Homo sapiens: one gene and its partners. The protein of the gene in region 1 purifies or fractionates together with the protein of each later gene. This does not show direct contact. Each region holds a gene or a part of one and is shown on either strand. Other genes may lie near its edges.

Region 1 (7,529 bases):
TCAAGACTGGGAGTCTGCGTGGGGTTGTGGCAGTAAGTCACCGGTGGCAAACTGGCAATTCTCTCTCTTGCCTAGCTATCGACATTAGTAACACCCTATACTATCTTCGTACACTTTTTATTACAATGTATAAACATCTTCCTCATAGAAGGGCAGGTAGTTCACATCTCCCCAGCTGCCTAAGCGGAGCGCCTGGTGCCCAGTAGGATGCCCCAAGCTGAACCCAGACCTGAAATATGACAAATTCTGATTCTCATGTTTTATAGTTTAATGTCAACCTTGGAAACAAAGTGATCTCTTAAATAAACCAACTTTTATGCAAAACTAAATGTCTCCTCAAACTAGTTTTAAAAATCACACAATTGGCTGGGTGTGGTGGCTCATGCCTGTAATCCCAGCACTTTGGGAGGCTGAAGCGGGAGGATCACGAGGTTGGGAGTTCGAGATCACCTTGGCCAACACAGTGAAACCCCTGTCTCTACTAAAAATACAAAAATTAGCTGGGCATGGTGGCACGTGCCTGTAGTCCCAGCTACTCAGGAGGCTGAGGCAGGAGAATCACTTGAACCCAGGAGGAGGAGGTTGCAGTGAGCCGAGATCATGCCACTGCACTCCAGCCTGGGTAGCAGAGTGAGACTCCGTTTCAAAAAATAGTAATAAGGTGCTACGAAGGGAAACGTGGCCTCTTAAGTGTAGACAATGAAATGAGAAGTGTAGACAGGGGTGTCAGTAGAAGAGTCTCAACTGATACCCACGTTTGCAATTTGTGCTCAGTTTGGTCTTCTTACACTATCTATAACTGAAGATTTTCAGCACAATTTAGAACTAAATCCTTAGTCCTCTGATCCACCAGATGGGTGAACTTGCCTAAGGAATGAAATAACAAGTGCCCATCGTCCCGTCTCCGTTGCTTTCTGCATTTGGCAGATGATACTTGATAGATATTTGTTGAATACATGACAAAAAACTCGTTAATTGAGGAACTACCTGTTGCCTACCAGAAAGGAATTTAAAATAAGTGCCCAGGAGGAGGAGGTTGCGGTGAGCCGAGATCCTGCCACTGCACTCCAGCCTGGGCAACAGAGTGAGACTCCGTCTCAAAAAATAATAGTAATAATAAAGAGCAGGTGCTACCTCCCTTCCGAGCAGCCCCTCTGGGAGGATGCACAGACTCCAACGGCACTGCTGAAATGCAGAGCGTTTGGGGACCTTCTCATTGCGAATGACCTTCCAAGCCTAAAGAAGTCTTCTGGTATTCTTAGTGGTGGCAAATCTTCCTCCTCTCAAGCTAGTCACTTTGATAAAGTGCTGCAAGTCAGAGTCTCACCTGATAAGGTGAGCTACCAACCACGTAAGTAAACTTTTGGTCAAACCTGGAGGGTGACTATTGAATAAGACTGATTTTCCCATATGACTACATTTTTACTACCACAACAGGAGTTCTAAAGAGATTCTGGCAAAGAAGCACCGATGAAATACAAGCACATTTTGGGACAATTACTTTCAACAGAGCAGTACCTATTTGAATGCCTAAGTTCTGGTACATCTGGTTAAAATTCTGACTCATAACCTCATGGACTTAAAATATCTAAATGAACGTTATCAAGGTTGGTGACAGACCCCACGTGCAAAGTGACCAAGCGTGACCACTAAACTCCTTGATAAAGAGGTACTCACCTTGAGATGCTCTGTAGCTGTGACAAAATACAAATCTCTGTAAACACGATGTAGGCCATAGGTTAACTTACCTGTTTGCTTTCTGGAGTGACTCCACAAAGCTTTCTTACAATATTTCAGCATGTCCCACCTACAACGGGAGAGGAGTTTCCGGCTTTGGGACACATTTGACTGGTTCCAGGGCTGGCTGGGCTCCATACTGCCCTTAGATAGTAAAATTATCAGGAAAAGACTCTCCTCCCAAAGCTGGGAAGCGGGATTCAGCCGAGGTCAAACCTCACCCGGATAATCCCAACTACTGAACGGGAAAGGACTACTCTACAGACAACAGGCTGGAGGTGAGTCTAACAGGAGACATGATGAGCACCTTGCTACACCCCAAACGGTACTTCAGATGCCAAACACTCTCTTCTTCCATTTTCCCAAATGGGTCTGAAGAATGACCTACTCTTGCAAATGAGTTAGCGTTGTTCGAACAAAGCTCATTTAAAACGGCCACTCTACCCGGCAAACTCAGTTGTCATAAAGTATTCAGGAAAAATGTTTGGCAGGAGTAAGGCTGTTAAGTTTCAGTTCTTCCAGCATTATAGCTGCAGTTGGTCTATATAAAGGACCCAGCACCTCTGATCTCCTAATCCAAGGGGCAAGGAAGTTACATACTCCTAAGAGACCGGCGCGCGTCTTGGGGCAATCACTGCGCCCAACCTGTGCACACTTTGAAGCTGCGGAGCAAGTTCCAGGAGGTTCATAAAGAGCTCAAAGTTCTCCGAAGAGCCCAGCAGCAGCCCGGGATGACCTACTCTGGAGGTGAATCTGGGCGCCTCTCACCGCCCCTTAGCCGGCGGCACACATGTGCCACGCGAGTGGCCCGGAAGAGAAATGACAGCTTCAGGAAAATAAACTCTGCCGCGGGGCGCGGAGGCAGCGCGCGAGGAGCTCGGGCGCCCAGGGCGCCCCAGGACCGCGGGGCCGGCTTACGGACGGAACTCGGGGTGGTGCCTGTCTCAAGGTCCCCTTCCCTGGGCCCGAGGGCCACGCTTCGGCCGGTGGGTCCGCACGGCCGGAGGCGCGCCGGGCTCCCGGGCCTCCCTCCCGCGGCCGCCGCCGCCGCCTCGGCGGCCTCCTCCTCCCGCCGCCGCCGGCCCGGCCTCCCGCCGCCCTCCCGGCCCCAGCTAACCTCAGCGCTAGGGCGGAGAGGAGGCCACGGCTCCCCTGGAGTCGGAGCGGCGTGGAGAAGACGTCCCTTGGCCCTTCCGCTCTTCACAGGTTCTGGCTCCAGGCTCGACACGGGCGGAACAAACGGGCTCCACTACCCGCGGGGGCCGGCCATTGTGCGACGTCATCAGGCCGCGACGGTAGTCCTACGGCCGGCGGGCTTCCCTCCCTCGCCCCGCCCCCTCCAGCTTCCTTCCGGCCTCCGCGCGGTTCCGCCCCCGCAGCGCGCGCCCGGACCCGCGCGAGCCAGCCGAACCCCCGCTACAGCGCAGGCGCCACGGGGAGTTCGCTTCTCAGGCGGCGGGCGTGCGGATCCGCGCCTGCGCACAGAGCTCCCCGCGGCCGCCGGGTCACGTGACGGGGCTCCGGCTGGGCCGGCGGGTTCTTCATCCCCGGGGATGATCGAGTTCATCAAAGTGGAAAACTTAAGGCGGTCTTCGTCGGGCTGATACTTCCTGCTTTATTGAATGTTGATATTAAATGCTTACCTCCGGAATTATTTTTTGAGGTATCGACTTTAGATTAAAAGCCTAACAATTCTTACCTTTCCCGTGGGCTGCCTGGCTCCCCGCGCGGTTCAACGCGAGCAGCGCCAGTGAGGGGACCTGTCGCGTGTCCTGCTCAGCGCGGTGTCCCACGGGCGCGTCCACAGCCCGGGGCGTCCAGGGGCTGCAGCGGTGCGAGCTGCTCTAGAGACGGAGGGCCCGGCCGGAGACCAGGGGCCGGCGGTTTCATCCTGCGCTGACCCTTGCCAACGACGTGGCTGGTCCTGGGGATCACAGGGCTTCGCTCATCCCATCTTCCTCCATATCCCCAAGGTGGAAACAAGGGGGCGAGATGTCCACAAACTGAGGAACAGACAAAATGCTGGCTGTCCATGCAGTGGAGTGTGAGTCAGTCATCAAGAAGAGTGAAGTTCAGACCCATGCCACAACATGGGTGAACCTTGGAAACATACTAAGTAAAGCAAGCCAATCGCAAAAGGACAAAACCTGTGCGACTCCATGCTATGGACCGAGTTCTGTCCCCCTAACATTTGTATGTGAAGCCTTAATCCCCAATGTGACTGTGTTTGCAGAAAGGGCCTTTAGAGAAGTAATTAAGGTTAAATGAGATTATAAGGGTGGGGTCCTGATCTGATAGGATTAGTGTCCTTGGAAGAGGTACCACAGGCCTGGCACTGTGGCTCACACCTGTAATCCTAGCACTTTGGGAGTCCAAGGTGGGAGGACCACCTCCTCCAGGAGTTTGAGACCAGCCTGGGCAACAAAGCAAGACCCCTGTCTCTACAAAAAAATTAACAGGGCACCGTGGTGCGTGCCTGTAGTCCCAGCAACTTGTTATGGTTACGTAAGAGGAATGTGAATTCAACCCTGGTGATTTTGGGTCGTGTCAGGAGCAGCCCTGCGACACCAGTTGGCACCTTCTGCAGACTCTATGTGTCGATAAGACAAGGTCCCACCCAGCAAGTGCCCTTTTCTCAGCTGATGAACATAAGCCTGCATGGACGTTACTGTCCATGGAAAGGAGCGGCCGGCACCGGCTGTGACAGACACGTGCCTGTCTGCGATCTGAGTTTCATGAACAGTAAACTCTGTTGGTCACAGCCTCTTTGGAAAACAATGTTAGTTAAAAGAAGTGCCCTGTGACCAGCAGTGCCACCCTCGACAGGGTTCTCCAAGTGGGACCCGGGCAAGCAGCCTCAGTATCACTAGGGGTTGTTAGCAATGTGCCTTCCTGGGCTCTGCCCCAGAGTGGCCGCACCAGTGACTGGGAGTGAGGTCCCAGGGCCCTGTGGTCCATGAAGAGCTCTCAGGGGATTCTGATGCCCAGTGGTACAGGTGGGCCACCGGACTGGGGTGTCATCTGCCCGTGGGCATGAGACATGAACAAGGACATAGCAGGTCTGTTAGTAGTCATAACTAAAAGAACAAAGGAGCCGGGCACGGTGGCTCATGCCTGTAATCCCAGCACTTTGGGAGGTCGAGGCGGGCAGATCGCGAGGTCAGGAGATCGAGACCATGCTGGCTAACACAGTGAAACCCCGTCTCTACTAAAAATACAAAAAATTAGCCGGGCGTGGTGGCGGGCGCCTGTAGTCCCAGCTACTCGGGAGGCTGAGGCAGGAGAATGGCATGAACCCGGGAGGCGGAGTTTGCAGTGAGCCCAGATCATGCCACTGCACTCCAGCCTGGGCAACAGAGCGAGACTCCGTCTCAAGAAAAAAAAAGAACAAAGGAAAAAACCAGAAAACCACCCAGATGTTGATGAGCAGATGATTGTACTGTTGTAATAGTAATCTGGTACAACATTTGCAACATCGCGGTTGTTAAAAATGCTAACGCATGAACCTCCAGTGTGTATACACAGATATAAATAAACGGGTGAAGACCATCTGTGAGGTTGCATGACAAAGGCAAGTGCAGAAGCAGACAGGGTGGGCACATTTCTTTTCTTTCTTTCTTTCTTTTTTTTTTTTTTTGAGACAGAGTCTCACTCTGTCGCCCAGGCTGGAGTGCAGTAGCGCCATCTCGGCTCCCTGCCACCTCCGCCCCCTGGGTTCAAGCGATTCTCCTGCCTCAGCCTCCCGAGTAGCTGGGACTACAGGCGCCCGCCACCACGCCCGGCTAATTTTTTTGTATTTTTAGTGGAGACGGGGTTTCACCGTGTTAGCCAGGACGGTCTCGATCTTCTGACCTCGTGATCCTCCCGCCTCGGCCTCCCAAAGTGTTGGGATTACAGGCGTGAGCCACTGCGCCCGGTCCACGTTTCTATCAAATTGAAATCATGAGCGGTTTTGCTGAGGGTGTGGGGCACCCAGAGCCTGCGGCCTGTGCTCGAGTGAAAATGGTGGCCCCGCTCCAGAAGCCTGCGACGGCGCTCACGGAACCGCAGCCTTCGTGCGGCGGCACCTGGGCCGTGCTACTCCTCTGTGACTTCCCGGAAGAGATGAGCTGCTACGTCCAGCAAAAGGCACATCCAAGATCGTTCACCCCAGCATGACTCGTTACACTCCGGACTAGAAGGAACCCCAAGGTGCTTCAGTGACAGAACGATGAACCAGCTGGGGTGTAACCCCCATGCAATGGAATATCGTACAGGAACGAAAAGGACACGCTACCCCTACAAGCAACATGGATCTCAGAGGCAGGATGTTGCGCAGAAGAAACCAGACACAAATGCTTCGGCTCGTGTTGCTGCGACTCATTACAGGCAGCCGAATCTGCGGTGATGGGGGCCCCAGGAGCAGTGACCAGGAGGCAGTGCCACGGAGCCTGCGGTGGGGGCTGATAGTCAGTAGCGTGACCTGGTTGGGATGTTCTGTTTTTAAGCTGGAGTCCATCATGTTTGTTTATTTGTTCATTTCGTAGAGGTGGGGGTCTTGTAGAGGTGGGGGTCTCACTCTGTTGCCCAGGCTGGTCTCAAACTCTGGGCCTCAAGCGATCCTCCCACCTTGGCCTTCCAAAGTGCTGGGATTACAGGTGTGAGCCACTGCATAAGGCCGTTATTGTTATTAGTGCTTAAAAATATTTAGTAAACATTTTATTTAGCCTAAAAACCATTCAGAGAGCAGAGGCTGGATGGAACACGGCGTGCCAGGCGGTGAGAGCACAGACCCTCCTCTTCCAGAGCAGGAAGTGGGTAAATGACTTTTAAGCCTCATTTCTGGGGTGGCAAAACTCTTCTGTATGAAGAAGTACAAATATGTAATGTCCCATAATGGCAGCTATGGGACGTTACGTATTTGCCAAAACCCACATAACGCACAACGCCAAGAGTGAACTGTAATGTAAACTGTGGACTTAAGTCAATGATCGTGTCCCGATACGGGCTGGTTGGTTGTGATGCAGGGCAGGTGAGGCCCAAAGTGGAGCTTAGCCTGCCAGCGTTCTTGGCTTTGCCCAAGAAAGAATTCAAGGACAAGCCGGAGGTAGAAGAGAACAACTTGATTGAAGAGGCAGTGTGGCAGGTCCGTGACGGCTCCTGCAGAGCTGGGCTGCCCAGAAGGCAGAGAGCAGCAGCTCAACGCACTTCTGCAGACCCATTATACCCACTTTTAATTACATGCAGATTAAGGGGCAGTTTATGCAGAAATTTCTGGGGAAGGAGTAGTCACTTCTGGGTCACTGAGTCATTGCCATGGAAAGGGGTGGGAGTGTTGCCATGGCGATGGTAAACTGACACAGAACACTGGTGGGTGTGTCTTTTTTTTCTTTTCCTGAGACGGAGTCTCCCTCTGTCACCCACATTAGAGTGCAGTGGCCTGATCTCGGCTCACCACAACCTCTGTCTCCTGGGCTCAAGCAATTCTTCTGCTTCAATCTCCTGAGTAGCTGGGGCTGCAGGCATGGGACATCATGCCTGGCTAATTTTTGTATTTTTAGTAGAGACAGGGTTTCACCATGTTGGCCAGGCTGGTCTCAAACTCCTGACCTCTGGTGATCTGCCTGCCTGGGCTCCCAAAGTGCTGGGATTACAGGCATGAGCCACTGCGCCCAGTCTGGTGTGTCTTATAAAAAGCTGCTTCTGCCCTGCCCTGTTTTAGCCAGTCCTGTTTGGTCCCAGCTCCAAGCCCTGCCTCTGGAGTCAAGTCCTGCCTCCTATCTCAATTGTAATAAATGTTCTGCACCAGTGCA
Region 2 (7,000 bases), about 88 Mb from region 1:
TCTTGACCAACCAGAGATTCTTTCTCATCTCCTAACAGAAGTTATTTCAGAGATACACAACGAGCTGTATGTATTCTGGGAACAGGCTCTGCCATTTTCTTCCCTTAACGACAGGGTCCAAAATAAATCTCCAAGGCTCCTTTGGACTCTGAGCTATCATGTCTCTTGTGTGAATCCAAGTGATGAAATCTGCGTATTTCACTATAAAACTCAAGTTCTTAGAGATCAGAACATAATGTTTTTTGTTTTTTTTTTGAGATGGAGTCTTACTCTATAGCCCAGGCTGGAATGCAATGGCATGATCTCGGCTCACTGCAACCTCTGCCTCCTGGGTTTAAGCAATTCTTCTGCCCCAGCCTCCCGAGTACCTAAGATTACAGGCTCACACCAACACACCTGGCTAATTTTTCGGTAGAGACGGGGTTTCACCATGTTGGTCAGGCTGGTCTCGAACTCCTGACCTCAGGTGATTCGCCCACCTCGGCCTCCCAAAGTGCTGGGATTATAGGCATCAGCCACCACGCCCGGCCAAAACATAAGGTTTTTAAAAATTAAAGAAATGTGAAAACACCCCAAGACTCCTCAGCTTTCTCCAGAAACAGATGAACATACCCTCAACTGATCAAGCTTCTCTCGGATCTGAATGAACCCCAAGTGTAACTTGCCACCGAAGTGGTCTGCCAGGCGACGGTCATTGTCATGGAGACCAAGGTAGGCTGAACAGACCTCGCAGACACGCAGCTTTTGCTGCTGAAAACTGGATGCAGGCATGGAATTTCTGTATTCTTCCTGAAGAAGGAAAATGGAGAAATAAAAGTGAGGTATATAGAACTGCCACCACAAATTCAATCTCCAAAATGAAAATATTTGATAAGATGACAGAGGTGACTTTTAAACAAATATTAAAAAAACACAAACAAAACTTCAGATATTTATAACCAACTCAATTTTCACTGTTTATTTAAGAAACGCGGCCAGGCACGGTCCCAGCACTTTGTGAGGCCAGGTGGGCGGACCATGTGGTCAAGAGATCAAGACCAGGCCAGGCGCGGTGGCTCACGCCTGTAATCCCAGCACTTTGGGAGGCTGAGGCTGGCGGATCACCTGAGGTCCGGAGTTCAAGATCAGCCTGACCAACATGGAGAAACCCCATCTCTATTAAAAATACAAAAGTAGCCGGGTGTGGTGGCGCATGCCTGTAATCCCAGCTATTCTGGAGGCTGAGGCAGGAGAATGGCTTGAACTCGGGAGGCGGAGGTTGCTGTTGAGCTGAGATCGCACAGGCAACAAGAGCAAAACCCTGTCTCAAAAAAAAAAAAAAAAAAAAAAAGAGAGATCGAGACCATCCTGGCCAACTTTGTGAAACCCCGTCTCTACTAAAAATACAAAAATCAGCTGGGTGTGGTGGCACATGCCTGTAGTCCCAGCTACTCAGGAGGCTGAGGCAGGAGAATCACTTGAACCTGGGAAGCGGAGGTTGCAGTGAGCCAAAACCGTGCCACTGCATTCCAGCCTGGCAACAGAGCGAGACTCCATCTTAAAAAAAAAAGGTACTAACAGGCTGGGCTCAGTGGCTCACGCCTGTAATCCCAGCATTCCGAGGCCAAGGCAGACAGATCACTTGAGGCCAGGAGTTCAAGACGAGCCTGGCAACATAGCAAAACCCTGTCTCTACTAAAAATACAAAAATTGGCCGGGCGCGGTGGCTCACGCCTGTAATCCCAGCACTTTGGGAGGCTGAGGCAGGCGAATCATGGGGTCAGGAGATCACGACCATCCTGGCTAACACGGTGAAACCCCGTCTCTACTAAAAAAACAGAAAAAATTAGCTGGGCGTGGTGGCGGGCGCCTGTAGTCCCAGCTACTCAGGAGGCTGAGGCAGGAGAATGGCGTGAACCCGGCAGGCGGAGCTTGTAGTGAGCCAAGATCATGCCACTGGGCGAAAGAGCGAGACTCCGTCTCAAAAGAAAAAAAAAAAAAAAAAGCCAGATGGTGGCAGGCATCTGTAATTCCAGCTACTGGAGAGGCTGAGGCACAAATTGTTTAAGCCCAGGAGGTGGAGGTTGCAGTGAGCTGAGATCACACCACTGCATTCCAACCTGGAGGACAGAGGAAAACTCCAAAAAGGAAAAAAAAAAAATTGTATTCCAGGCCTGGTGTAGTGACTCACACCTATAATCTCAGCACTTTAGGAGAGTGAAGCAAGAAGATCACTTGGCCCCAGGAGATTGAGATCACCCTGAGCAACACAGCAAGACTCAGTCTCTAAAAATAAGAAAATAATTAGCCCGCTGTGGTGGCACGTGCCTATAGTCCCACCTACTCAAGAGACTGATTCGAGAGGACTGCTTGAGCCCAGGAGGTTGAAGGGGCAGTGACCTGTGACTGCGCCACTGTACTTCAGCCTGGGTGACCCTGGCTGACAGCAGGACCCTCTAATATTAAAAAAAATAGGCTGGGCACAGTGGCTAACACCTGCAATCCCAGCACTTTGGGAGGCCAAGGCAGGTGGATCACAAGGTCAGGAGTCCGAGAAGGTGAAACCCCGTCTCTATTAAAAATACAAAAAAATTAGCTGGGCACGGTGGCTGGCACCTGTAATCCCAGCTACTCGGGAGGCTGAGTCTGAGAATTACTTGAACCCGGGAGTCAGAGGATGCAGTGAGCCGAGATCGCACCACAGCAATCCAGCCTGGGCGACAGAGCGAGACTCTGTCTGAGAAAAAAAAAAAAAAAAAAGTAGACAAGGAACTAGCAAGAACTTGAATTTCCATTATAGTATGCTACATAACTAAAAAAAAAAAAAAAAAAAAAAAACTTAAGCAAAAACAATATTGTGGTACACAAATATTCATAACATTACTCTGTCCCCTTCTATAGTTTTGAAACCTTAAATGCCACCTTCTAACATCTTTCAAAATAAACTCTGATTATGTTGAGTAAAAAAAGTCAGTCCCAAAAGGTTACCTACTGTATGATTCCATTTACATAACTTTTTTTTTTTTTTTGAGACGGAGTCTCGCTCTGTCGCCCAGCCTGGAATGCAGTGGCACGATCTCAGCTCACTACAAGCTCTGCCTCCCGGGTCCACACCATTCACCTGCCTCAGCCTCCTGAGTAGCTGGGACTACAAGCGCACGCCGCCACGCCCGGCCAATTTTTTGTATTTTTAGTAGAGACGGAGTATCACCATGTTAGCCAGGATGGTCTCGATCTCCTGACCTCGTGATCCACCCGCCTCAGCCTCCCAAAGTGATGGGATTACAGGCGTGAGCCACCGCACCAGGCTTTTTTTTTTTTTTTTTTTTTTTTGAGAGAGAGTCTTGCTCTGTCACCCATATTGGAGTGCAATGGCACGATCTCTGTTCGCTGCAACCTCCGCCTTCTGGGTTCAAGCGATTCTCCTACTTCAGCCTCCCAAGTAGCTGGGATTACAGGTGCCCGCCACCACACCTGGCTAATTTTTATACTTTTAGTAGAAATGGGGTTTCACCAAGTTGGCCAGGCTGGTCTCGAACTCCTGACCTCAGGTGATGCACCTACCTTGGCCTCCCAAAGTGCTGGGATTACAGGCATGAGCAACCGTGCCCGGCCATATTTTTAATTTCTTTGTAAAGATGGGGTATCCCTATGTTGCCCAGGCTGGTCTCAAACTCCTGGACTCAAGCAATCCTCCTGCCTCGACCTTCCAAAGTGTTGAGATTACAGGCATGAGCCACCATACCCACCCTCCATAAGCTTTTACGCTGGGCAGAAGGCAGCAAAAGGGGAGTCAGCATATCACATGGCAAAAGAAGGAGTGAGACAGAGAGAAGGACCTAGGCTCCTTTAAACAATCAGCTCTGAGGTGAACTCACTATCCCAGGGAGGGCACCAAGCCATTGATGAGTGAACCACCCCCATGACCCAAACACCTCCCACTAGACCCCACCTCCAACATTGGAGGTCACATTTCAACATGAGATTTGGACGTGCCACACATCCAAACCGTATCAAGTGTTATTTTTTATCTTTTATACTGTATTTTTACTGTACCTTTTCTATGTTTACGTACACAAATATTTAGGGGCCCACTGTGTTGCAACTGCCTATAGTATTCAGCACAGTAACATGCTGTACAGGTGTGGAGCCTAGGAGCAATGGGCTCTACCATACAGCCCACATGGCTATACCACCCAGGTTTGTTAAGCACACTCTATAATGTTCTCACAATGATGAACCATGGAACGCACTTCTCAGAATATTTAATCCTTGTCATTAAGAAAGATATGACTGTACTAATATCAGAAATGAAAGACAGGACATCATTACGGATCCACCCACTTTAAAGGAATAATACAAACAACTCTTAAAAACAACAACTCCATGCCCACAAAAGCGATAAACTAGATGAAATGGACCGATCCCTTCAAAGACAGCCAGGAGCAGTGGCTCACGCCTGTAATCCCAGCACTGTGGGAGGCTGAGGCAGGTGGATCACTTGAGGTCAGGAGTTTGAGACCAGCCTGACCGACATGGTGAAACCCCGTCTTCTCTACTAAAAATACAAAAATTAGCTGGGCATGGTGGCAGGCACCTGTAATCTCAGCTGCTCAGGAGGCTGAGGCAGGATAATCAGTTGAACCCAGGAGTTGGAGGTTGCAGCGAGCCATCGCACCACCGCACTCCAGCCTGGGCAACAGAGAGAGACTCCGTGTAAAAAAAAAGTATAATAATGTTGAAAGACACAATCTGCCAAAACTCACACAAGAAGAAACAGATGATCTGAATGAATCTGTATATTAATAACCTTCCAAAACAGAAAGCATCAGGTCCAGATGGGTTTACTGGTGAATTCTACCAAAGCATTAGGGAGCAAATCATGCCAATTCTCTACAATCGCTTTCAGAAAATAGAAGCAGAGAGAGTATCTTCTAACTCCTTCTATGGGGACATTACCATAATACCAAAACCAGATAAAGGTATTACAAGAGGCCAGGCATCATGGTGACTCATGACTCTAATCCCAGCACTTTGGGAAGCAGAGCTAGGCAGATCGCTTGAGCCAAGGATTTCAAGACCAGCCTTGACAACATGGCGAAACCCAGTCTCTCCAAAAAATACAAAAAATTAGCTGGGCTTGGTGGCATGTGCCTTCAGTCCTAGCTATTTGAAAGGCTGAGGCGGGAGAATCAAATGAGCCCAGGAGATCAAGCCTTCAGTGAGCCAAGATCGCGCCACTGCACTCCAGCCTGGGTGAGAAAGTGAGACCGTCTCAGGGCGGGGGGCGGGGTGGAGGTGGGGAGGGCTGGGCGCGGTGGCTCACACCTGTAATCCCAGCACTTTGAGAGGCCAAGGCAGGCGGATCATGAGGTCAGGAGATAGAGGCCATCCTGGCTAACACGGTTAAATCATATCTCTACTAAAAACACAAAAAATTAGCCAGGTATGGTGGCACACGCCTATAGTCTCAGCTACTCGGGAGGCTGAGGCAGGAGAATCGCTTGAGCCCGGGAGGCGGAGGTTGCAGTGAGCCGAGATCACGCCACTGCACTCCAGCCTGGGCGAATGAATGAGACTCCATCTCAAAAAAACACAAAAACAAAAACCAAAAAACAAATGACCAATTACACCAGCACCCGCAAGCATGAAATATTTAGGTAGAAATCTAACAAAACATGCATGAGATCTTCACTATGAGAAAAATTACAAGACTCATAAAAGGTATCAAATGGCCTGGCGAAGTGGCTCACGCCTGTGATCCCAGCACTTTGGGAGGCCAAGGCAGACGGATCACCTGAGGTCAGAAGTTTGAGACCAGCTTGGCCAACACGGTGAAACCCCATCCCTACTAGAAATGAAAAAAAAAAAAAAAAATTAGCCATGGGCCGAGCATGGTGGCTCACTCCTGTAATCCCAGCAGTTTGGGAGACCGAGGCGGGTGGACCACGAGGTCAGATTGAGACCATCCTGGCTAACACAGTGAAACCCCATCTCTACTGAAAGTACAAAAAAATTAGCCGGGCGTGGTGGTGGGCGCCTGTAGTCTCAGCTACTCTGGAGGCTGAGGCAGGAGAATGGTGTGAACCGAGGAAGCGGAGCTTGCAGTGAACTGAGATCGCACCACTGCACTCCAGCCTGGGGGACAGAGCGAGACTCCATCTCAAAAAAAAAAAAAAGAGAGAAAATTATAAGGAAGAGAAAATAAAATACATTTATAGTACTGTGCTGTACTGATCACTTCTGTACGTTTACACTGCTCATTTACAAGATGAATTGTCCGTCTGAAATGGTAGCAACTGCAGCTGCAGACCTCAATCTAATGTATACATCAAGCAACTCAACTTTTTCTTGTAATATCATGGCTGTTCTTGCCTTCTTGGGAGCATTTTCAGCATCACTAGTGGCATATGGATCCTATGGCATTACTCAAAGTTTATGGTATTGCACTAAACACGATGAAAAACGCCTAGGAACCCTGTGAGTTCACTTTTTACTGCAGTAGGAATGTACTGGAGAGGTGAACTGCTCCTTCGGAGATGATGAGTGTCACGTGGTGTTTCAAGGGGATACTCACGACCCTTGAGCTCCACACAATGGCAACAGGAAGTGGCATGAATTATTACAGTAGTACAGTACCTATTACAGTTATTCTTAGGCAGCCCTGATTTAATACTGCACCTCTGCACTACGTTTGTTAACATCTCTCTACGGCGAATGCTGTCATGTATGGTCTGTAAGCGTTTGCATGTAGCCTCTTCTTTTTTAGAGACAGGGTCTTGCTATGTTATCCAGGCTGGACTCCAAAAGTCCTAGGATTAAGGGATCCTCTCATCTCAGCCTCCCGAACAGCTGAGACTAAAGCCAAGAGCCACCATAGCTGGCCATATGCTTAAGTTTTGACAAATGTTACCTTTTCATAATAGACTTGTGTATATTTTATGGCAGTAAATAAAAGACTAGTATCCTCATATATTTTATGTATTCATGACATACCTAACATTTTCTGCAGACTTTGGGT
Region 3 (7,248 bases), on another chromosome or scaffold:
ATTCAAGTTAAGGTATATTTAACTAACAGACTTAAATCTCCAATGAATTTTAAAAGGAACTAATTAAAAACTGTCAGGAAGGGGAGGGGGAAGAAACCTTGAGGGGGTGAGGAGGTAATGTTTTCCCAAAGCCCCAGGACTCTGTGCCACTTCAGATTCCTTCACAGACAGGACACTAAGAGTGGAGGGGGTCACTGCCACCTTGAACCCCACTTCCAAAAAAGAGAGTCGCTGCTTTATAGTCTCTGGAATTAAAAAAAAAAAAAAAAAAGGACAGAGTTGCCTTAAATACCCTCCTACCTACCTTTTCCATCTCTCTCCCACCTCCTGGATACCCATTTCCACCTCTTAGTGCCAAAGACACCCAACAGCGTTCCCATAGGCTGTTTGTGTGTCCAATACAAGGGTTCCCATTAAATGGTTTCAAATTACATGGTGTTATTCAGGGGACGTTTCCATGTTCCCCTATCCCTGGGTAACTTGAAGTTGACTGTATGCTAAAAAAGAACAATCCTAATTATTAAAAGTCCTGAATCATAAAATGATATATATAAACTCATTAAATGGTAAGAAAAAAAAGAATGTTCTGATTATTTTGCATATATAGAATTAATTTTGATATCTAAAAAAAACTCCACTCAATTATTTTTCCTTGAAAGTAGTATATTTTTTACTTCTAACCCAATACAGCAGTGAAAATCCAGTCATTTCAGCTAAACAATACTGTGGACTCGTAAATATGAGTTCGATCATAAATCCTCTAAGTCTGAAGGTTAAAAAAAAAAATCCAGTAACAGACACATAAAAAAATACACAAAGTGGATTTTAAGAAATCCATGTTTCTGCTGACTACACACACAGAAATATATATATTTAAATTTAGCTTTGCAATACTAGACGGGCTGCCTAATTCAGAAACTTATCAGGAGATGGTTTACCTTGATCCAACTACCCTCCCAGTAAAACTAAGAAATCCAATCCATGAAGAAGATCCCAAAAATGGTATCCATCAAGGATTAAAAGGATCATGTAAAGCACGTCTTAAATAACTTAATTTTATTACACAGATTAGTTATTCTGTTAGCTAGGATCCAATGAAACCCGTTCCCAATACCCTCTCTCATGTTGGAAAAGGAGGAATGTTAAGACATGCTGCAGTGATAAAGTAACCATTCTTATCTAAACGTGAGAAATGATAACAGTTAAAAGTTTCTCCAGTGGCATTTTAAGTTAATGTTAACTTTCCATACAAAACTCATTTCCTTCCCAATCTTTCCTCTCTACACAACCACAAGTAGGTTTGCCATCTACACCTATTTGTCTATATATTCTACAAATAAAAGTTCCCAATATGGGTTTTTATTAAAACTGAAAATGTGAACACTGAAAAGCCACTCTACGCACTGCTGAAAGATTTGAATGCAATAAAATTTTTAAAATTTACTCATATTTTGCTGTAAAGCACTCATGTAAATTAAAAGAGTAACTTAAAAACTAAATTTAAGACGTGCCTTTTCTCTTAAATCAATACACTTAAATAACTTCTCAAGAAAAAAAGCATTTCCTTAGTGGCTAAGAAACTATCTGCCTAAAGAAGCAACACATAAAAACTACCAAGGATTTTGCTGTGTTAAGAAAGTAATGAACTAGACCTTTCCTACATATTTGAATGTATTTAAGTTGAATTTGAGAGTACATTACTAATTAACATCACCAAAAAAGCAACAGCATTTCATCATTTTATTTAGAAATTCTCTTTATGACAAAGGATAATCCAGCAATTAAGGGCTCTCTATACAGATTCTAAACTAAACGCCTGAAAGGATCTTTGTTCTCCTCTATTCTACTTCACTGGGTACCAAATTTTCAAAATCGTTCTGTTAGGGACATGCAACATTTGTCAATATTTACTGAACAAAGCCTCTATTAAATTGTCTAACAAAATGGAGGTCTCTCGGAAAAACAGGCCATAACATGTTCCTTCTCACAAAATGGGGCCAAACACACCCACTTAAGAAACCATGGTTTGGGTCAGATTTTCCATAAAAATGGTTGTTTCTGTGGGGCTCGAGGGTGCATCTCTGAGACTGGGTTAGTAATAAAGGTTTCCTCCTGACCCAGGAAGAGGAGGGGGAAGCTTCTCTCTAGGTACTCTGGAGGACGGCGGCGAGGGATGATCCCAAAGCTCTGGGTTAAGGAATTATATCGGGGGTGGAGGCCTTAGCTTTCCGCAGGTACCTAACCAGCGACAAAACGGGCCCCCCAACTACGCAACAGAGACGCGGGCTCTCCCGTCTCAGCCAAGTCAACATTAAAAGCACAAACTCTCCTTTCTGCCTCCAGGCCCCGCCTCACCCCATTGGCAGCAGTTCCCGCCAATCCGCATGGTCACCGCCCCCCCTGCCCGCCTGCCGAGCCCTGATTGGATGGGACGGGGGACGGGGACCTCGTGTTACCAATCTGGGAGCCCCTTACTCAGCCACACGCGCGCGCCCAGGTGCGCCCTCGGAACCCCTTCCCTTCGCCGTCCCCGTCCCCTCCCCCACCCCCAGGGCCCTGGCAGAGACTTACCGTCCCGGGAGGTGCCCATCAACTGGTCCAGCATCGCGCGCATCTGGGCCTGCGCCGACATGGCGGCGGCGTAGCGGGCGGACGGGCGGGGGTGGGGCGCAGACCGGGCCCTTTTGGGCTGGGGGATAAGGGGAAGGGATGGGGGAAGGTGCGCTGCTGTCTCGGTGGCCGCCGCCGCCTCGAGGCGTGCGGAAAGGGAGCCGGAGGGGTTGCGGGAAGAGTCCGGACTGCGCTCCTCACGACGACGTGTACGTGGAAGACGACAGCCCCCGACAGCGACCCTCGTGCCCTCACTCTCCGTCCGGTTCTTGGGACAGAAGCGACACGGGCCAAGCAAGCTCTCGCCTTCAACACCGCCACCCGCCAGAAGCCGTCAACCCCCCCTCAAGCTCTGACGCCGCTCGCCGCCACCGTCGCCACGACGGGAGCGCGCACGCTCCTCGCGCTCAGTCGTTTCCCGCGGGGGCTCCACCAACTGGCGTCCAGCTGTATCACTCCGCCCGCCCCGCCCGAGTGGAGTTCCACCCTAACGGCTCTGGGCGCGTGCACGCGCGCTCCTCCCGCCCCTTTACCCCGGATCTCGCGATACTCTGGTTCCTTAACTGACTGTGCAAGCCGGATCCGCCCCGAGGCGCCAAACCTTACATTACATTCCCTCCCGGCTGTAGGGCTGGCGGCTAAGGCTGCGCTGCCCGCGGTGATGGCGATTCAGACCCAAATTAGCAAAATGCGCTAGAGGTTAGCCTGGGCGGAAAGTAAGTAGAGACCATGCCCATCGTCGACCGGACTGCGGTCAGCCTCCTTGGCGTCTGAGGTGGGCGTGCTCGGGGCGAACGCCCGCCCCGAGTGGCGTGGACGCGTCCTGGTTCTCGTGCGCCTTTCCCGGCCGGGAGCAGGCCTGTCTCGCCGCCGCCGGGGCCGCGTTCCTTCCGCTGCGTGGGGCTTTAAGGCTCCTCGGCTGGGAAGTGTCAACTTCAGGAGAAAGCGCCCGAAAGCAGTACCCTAGGAAACAGGCGCGCCGACCCATTCGGATTCATCTTTACCTACAAGGTCGCGGGCGGCTTAGTCTGAATGTGAAACCATAAAAACTCAGCGTATTCTCAGCTACTGGGGAGGCGATCTCGGGGAGCAGGGAGCCAGCGGCGCTGGCCGCAGGGAAGCCTGGATTCTGAAGCCCGGCCCGTGACTGGGGCCTTGGCTTCAGTTCTACCCCTCGTAGGGCTGGTGGAGGTGGTCACACGTCTGCTATGGCGTGGCTGTTAGAACAAACTGGAATAAAATACTTAGCCCTGAGCCTTTCCCTGGTGTTTCTAAAAACTGTTTTAGTAAAATATTAATTCCTTGCCGGGCGCGGTGGCTCACGCCTGTAAACCCCGCACTTTGGGAGGCCAAGGGAGGTGGATTGCCTGAGGTCAGGAGTTCAAGATCAGCCTGGCCAACATGGTGAAACCCTGTCTCTACTAAAAATATAAAAATTAGCCGGGCGTGATGGCGGGCGCCTCCCCAGCTACTCGGGAGGCTGAGGCAGGAGAATCGTTTGAACCCGGGAGACGGAGGTTGCAGTGAGTCGAGATGACGCCACTGCGCTGCAACCTGCGCGACAGAGCGAGACTTCTAAAAAAAAAAATTCCTTAAGTAAGACATAGGTCAGTGTGCAGGAAGAAAGGTTGCTTAAAAAGAAATCTAAAACTGTAAGAAAAATGAATGAGTTAATAAAACCAAATGTTTAAGAAGACAGGCACTTTCTAGATACTTTGAAAGGACATAATAGAGATTTGTGTTCCATTAACACTGTATATTCATCGCCTAAAAAGAAATTTAAAACTGTAAGAAGAATGAGTTAATAAAATCAAATGTTTAAGAAGACAGGCACTTCCTGGATACTTTGAAAGGAAATAATAGAGATTTGTGTTCCATTAACACTGTATACTCATCGCCTTGGAACTGTTATTAGCAGATCAATAAAAAACATGAATAGTAGTAATAGTCCCAAAATTCCTTTAAATGTATATTGCGGCTGGGAGGGATGGCTCATGCCTGTAATCCCAGTACTTTGGGAGGCAGAGGCGGGCGGATCACCTTGAGGTCAGGAGTTCGAGACCAGCCTGACCAACATGGTGAAATTCCATCTCTACTAAAAATACAAAAATTAGCCGGGCATGGATGCGCGTGCCTGTAATCCCAGCTACTCGGAGGCTGAGGCAGGAGAATCACTTGAACCCGGGAAGTGGAGGTTGCAGTAAGCCGAGATTATGCCACTGCACTCCAGGCTGGGTACAAAGCAAGACTCTATCTCAAAAATAAATGCGTATTGGGCCAATGAAAATTTTTGAGGTCGGACGCAGTGGCTCACACCTGGAATCCCAGCACTTTGGGAGGCCGAGGCGGGCGAATCACGAGGTCGGGAGTTTGAGACCAGCCTGCCAACATGGTGAAACCCTGTCTCTACTAAAAATAGAAAAAATGAGCTGGGCGTGGTGGCGCATGCCTGTAGTCCCAGCTACACCGGAGGCTGAGGCAGGAGAACCGCTTGAACCCAAGAGGCGGAGGTTGCAGTGAGCCGAGATCGCGCCATTGCACTCCAGCCCTGGTGAGTGTGAGACTCCATCTCAAAAAAAAAAAAAAAATTATTTTGAATCAAGTTATCTTTAGTAATACACAAAATAGCTTCTCTTCAGTTATTCAGAGAACTCTGAATTCCAAACTCCAAATACTAGGATATCCTTTGGGAACTGATTTATAATAATAGAAAAATGTGCAAATTAATATGTCTTTGAGGGATACACTATTATGTACACAATGTGATCTGACCCTGAAAAACAGTGTATTTAAAGAAATACACTAAAACCAATAATTATGTTTTGTTGAAGAGATTTGAGTTCTTTTTTTTATTTTAGATGTCTTATAAACAGCATATAATTGGGGCTTAAAAATAGTCTATACAATACATAATGATCAAAATTGAGGAGTGAAATTGAGGAGTGAATTAAGTGATGTTCACTCTTGGAAGCATTGATGATTTATATTCATGTAATTACTCCTGTGTTTGGGTTTAAAACTCTTATTTTTGCCTATTTGTCTCATCTATTTCATGTTTTTCTCTCCTTTCCTGCCTGATTTTTAATCATTCCAATTTCTTCCACTCTAGTAGTGTGGAAGTTTCATTTTATTATATTTTTATTCTTTCAGTGATTACCCTAGAAGTTATAATGTGTATCCTTAAGGTATCAAAGTCTAATTTAATCAATACCTTTATACTCCCCTCCCCCAAGAGAGGTAATACAAGGAACCTAGAACACTAACTCCATTTACTCTCATCCCAAGTTATATGCTCTTGTTACCAGGTCTTTTAGTTCTCTTATTTTTTAAAACCAAGTTTTATATAATCAATGTTCTTTATTTACCACTTATTTTGCTCTTCATTCCTTCGGAAATCTCTGCCTGTCCATCTGGGATCATTTCCTTTTTGTCTGAAGTTTATCCTTTAGCACAGGAGTCAGCAAGCTACGGTCCACAGGCCAAATGCAGCCCACGGCCTATTTTTGTGAATAAAGTTTCACAAAAATTCGAATACTGCCAGGCTCGTTCATTTACATATTGTTGTGGTTGCTTTTGCCCCACAATAGAGTTGGGTGGTTTGTGAGGGATCCCATACTGTGTGGCCTACAACACTCAAATATTTACTATCTGACTTTTTTTTTTTTTTTAACGCAGGTTTTCACCATGTTGGCCAGGCTGGTCTCAAACTCCTGACCTTAAGTGATCCACCTGCCTCGGCCTCCCAAAGTGCTGAGATTACCAGGGTGAGCCACTGTGCCCAGCCTGACTATGAAGTTTGCCTACCTTGCTTCAGGGTTTGTTTTTGTGTTGGTCGGCTAGTTGGGGGAACGCTCCCATTTTGTTTATCTAAAAAGATCTTTATTTTGCTTTAAATTCTAAATGGATATTTTTATTAGCTAAATCCTAGGTTGGAGGTTCCTTTTTTTTTTTTTTTTTTTTTTTTTTTTTGAGATAGGGTCTTGCTCTGTCACCCAGGCTGGAGTGCAGTGGCGAGATCTCGCCTTGGCTCACTGCAGCCTTGGCTTCCCGGGCTCAAGTGATCCTCCCACCTCAGCCTCTCAAGTAGCTGGGACTGCAGGTATGCACCACCACACTGAGCTAATTTTTAAAATTTTTCTTGTAGAGACAAGGTCTCCCTATGTTGCCCAGGCTGGTCTCAAACTCCTGGGCTCAAGCAATCTGCCCACCTCAGCCTCCTGAAGTGCTGGAATTACAGGTGTGAGCCACCACGCCCAGTGGTTATTTTCTTTGGGCACATACATTCTACCTAACCTTTTACCTTCCACTGCTCCTAAGAAGTCAGTTCTGTTTTTCACTCTTTTAAAGATAGCTGGCTACTTTATCATGCCATTATGGACTCATTGAACAATGAGTTTTCATTCATTCGTTCATTGAGAATCCATTAACTAACATCTTTTGTCAATTTAGGAAATTCTTAGCTCTTACCTCCTCAGATATTGCCCCTCTCATCAACTTCTGGACATTTAAATACATGCATATTAGATAGTTTTCACTGTATCCTATCTCTTTACTCTCAGTCTTGCACTTTTTACCTTGGTCTTTCAAAGCCGATGCCTTTTTCTGACAAATTTTATAGTTCATTAATGTCACTATGGA

Evidence for each region. The genes of interacting proteins can lie anywhere in the genome.
Region 2: the proteins of ZC3H18 (region 1) and LUC7L purify together in Homo sapiens (affinity purification with mass spectrometry; 4 studies listed by BioGRID and IntAct, with this or other methods). This does not show direct contact.
Region 3: the proteins of ZC3H18 (region 1) and LUC7L2 purify together in Homo sapiens (affinity purification with mass spectrometry; 5 studies listed by BioGRID and IntAct, with this or other methods). This does not show direct contact.

The regions. Positions count from the first base shown.
Region 1 is NC_000016.10:88,565,892-88,573,420, reverse strand, and holds the start of ZC3H18 (zinc finger CCCH domain-containing protein 18), read right to left. Parts: upstream 3,019-7,529; 5' UTR 2,855-3,018; intron 1-2,854.
Region 2 is NC_000016.10:198,450-205,449, forward strand, and holds part of LUC7L (putative RNA-binding protein Luc7-like 1), read right to left. Parts: intron 790-7,000; coding exon 613-789; intron 1-612. UniProt on the Homo sapiens protein: May bind to RNA via its Arg/Ser-rich domain.
Region 3 is NC_000007.14:139,355,646-139,362,893, reverse strand, and holds the start of LUC7L2 (putative RNA-binding protein Luc7-like 2), read right to left. Parts: upstream 3,001-7,248; 5' UTR 2,633-3,000; coding exon 2,572-2,632; intron 1-2,571. UniProt on the Homo sapiens protein: May bind to RNA via its Arg/Ser-rich domain.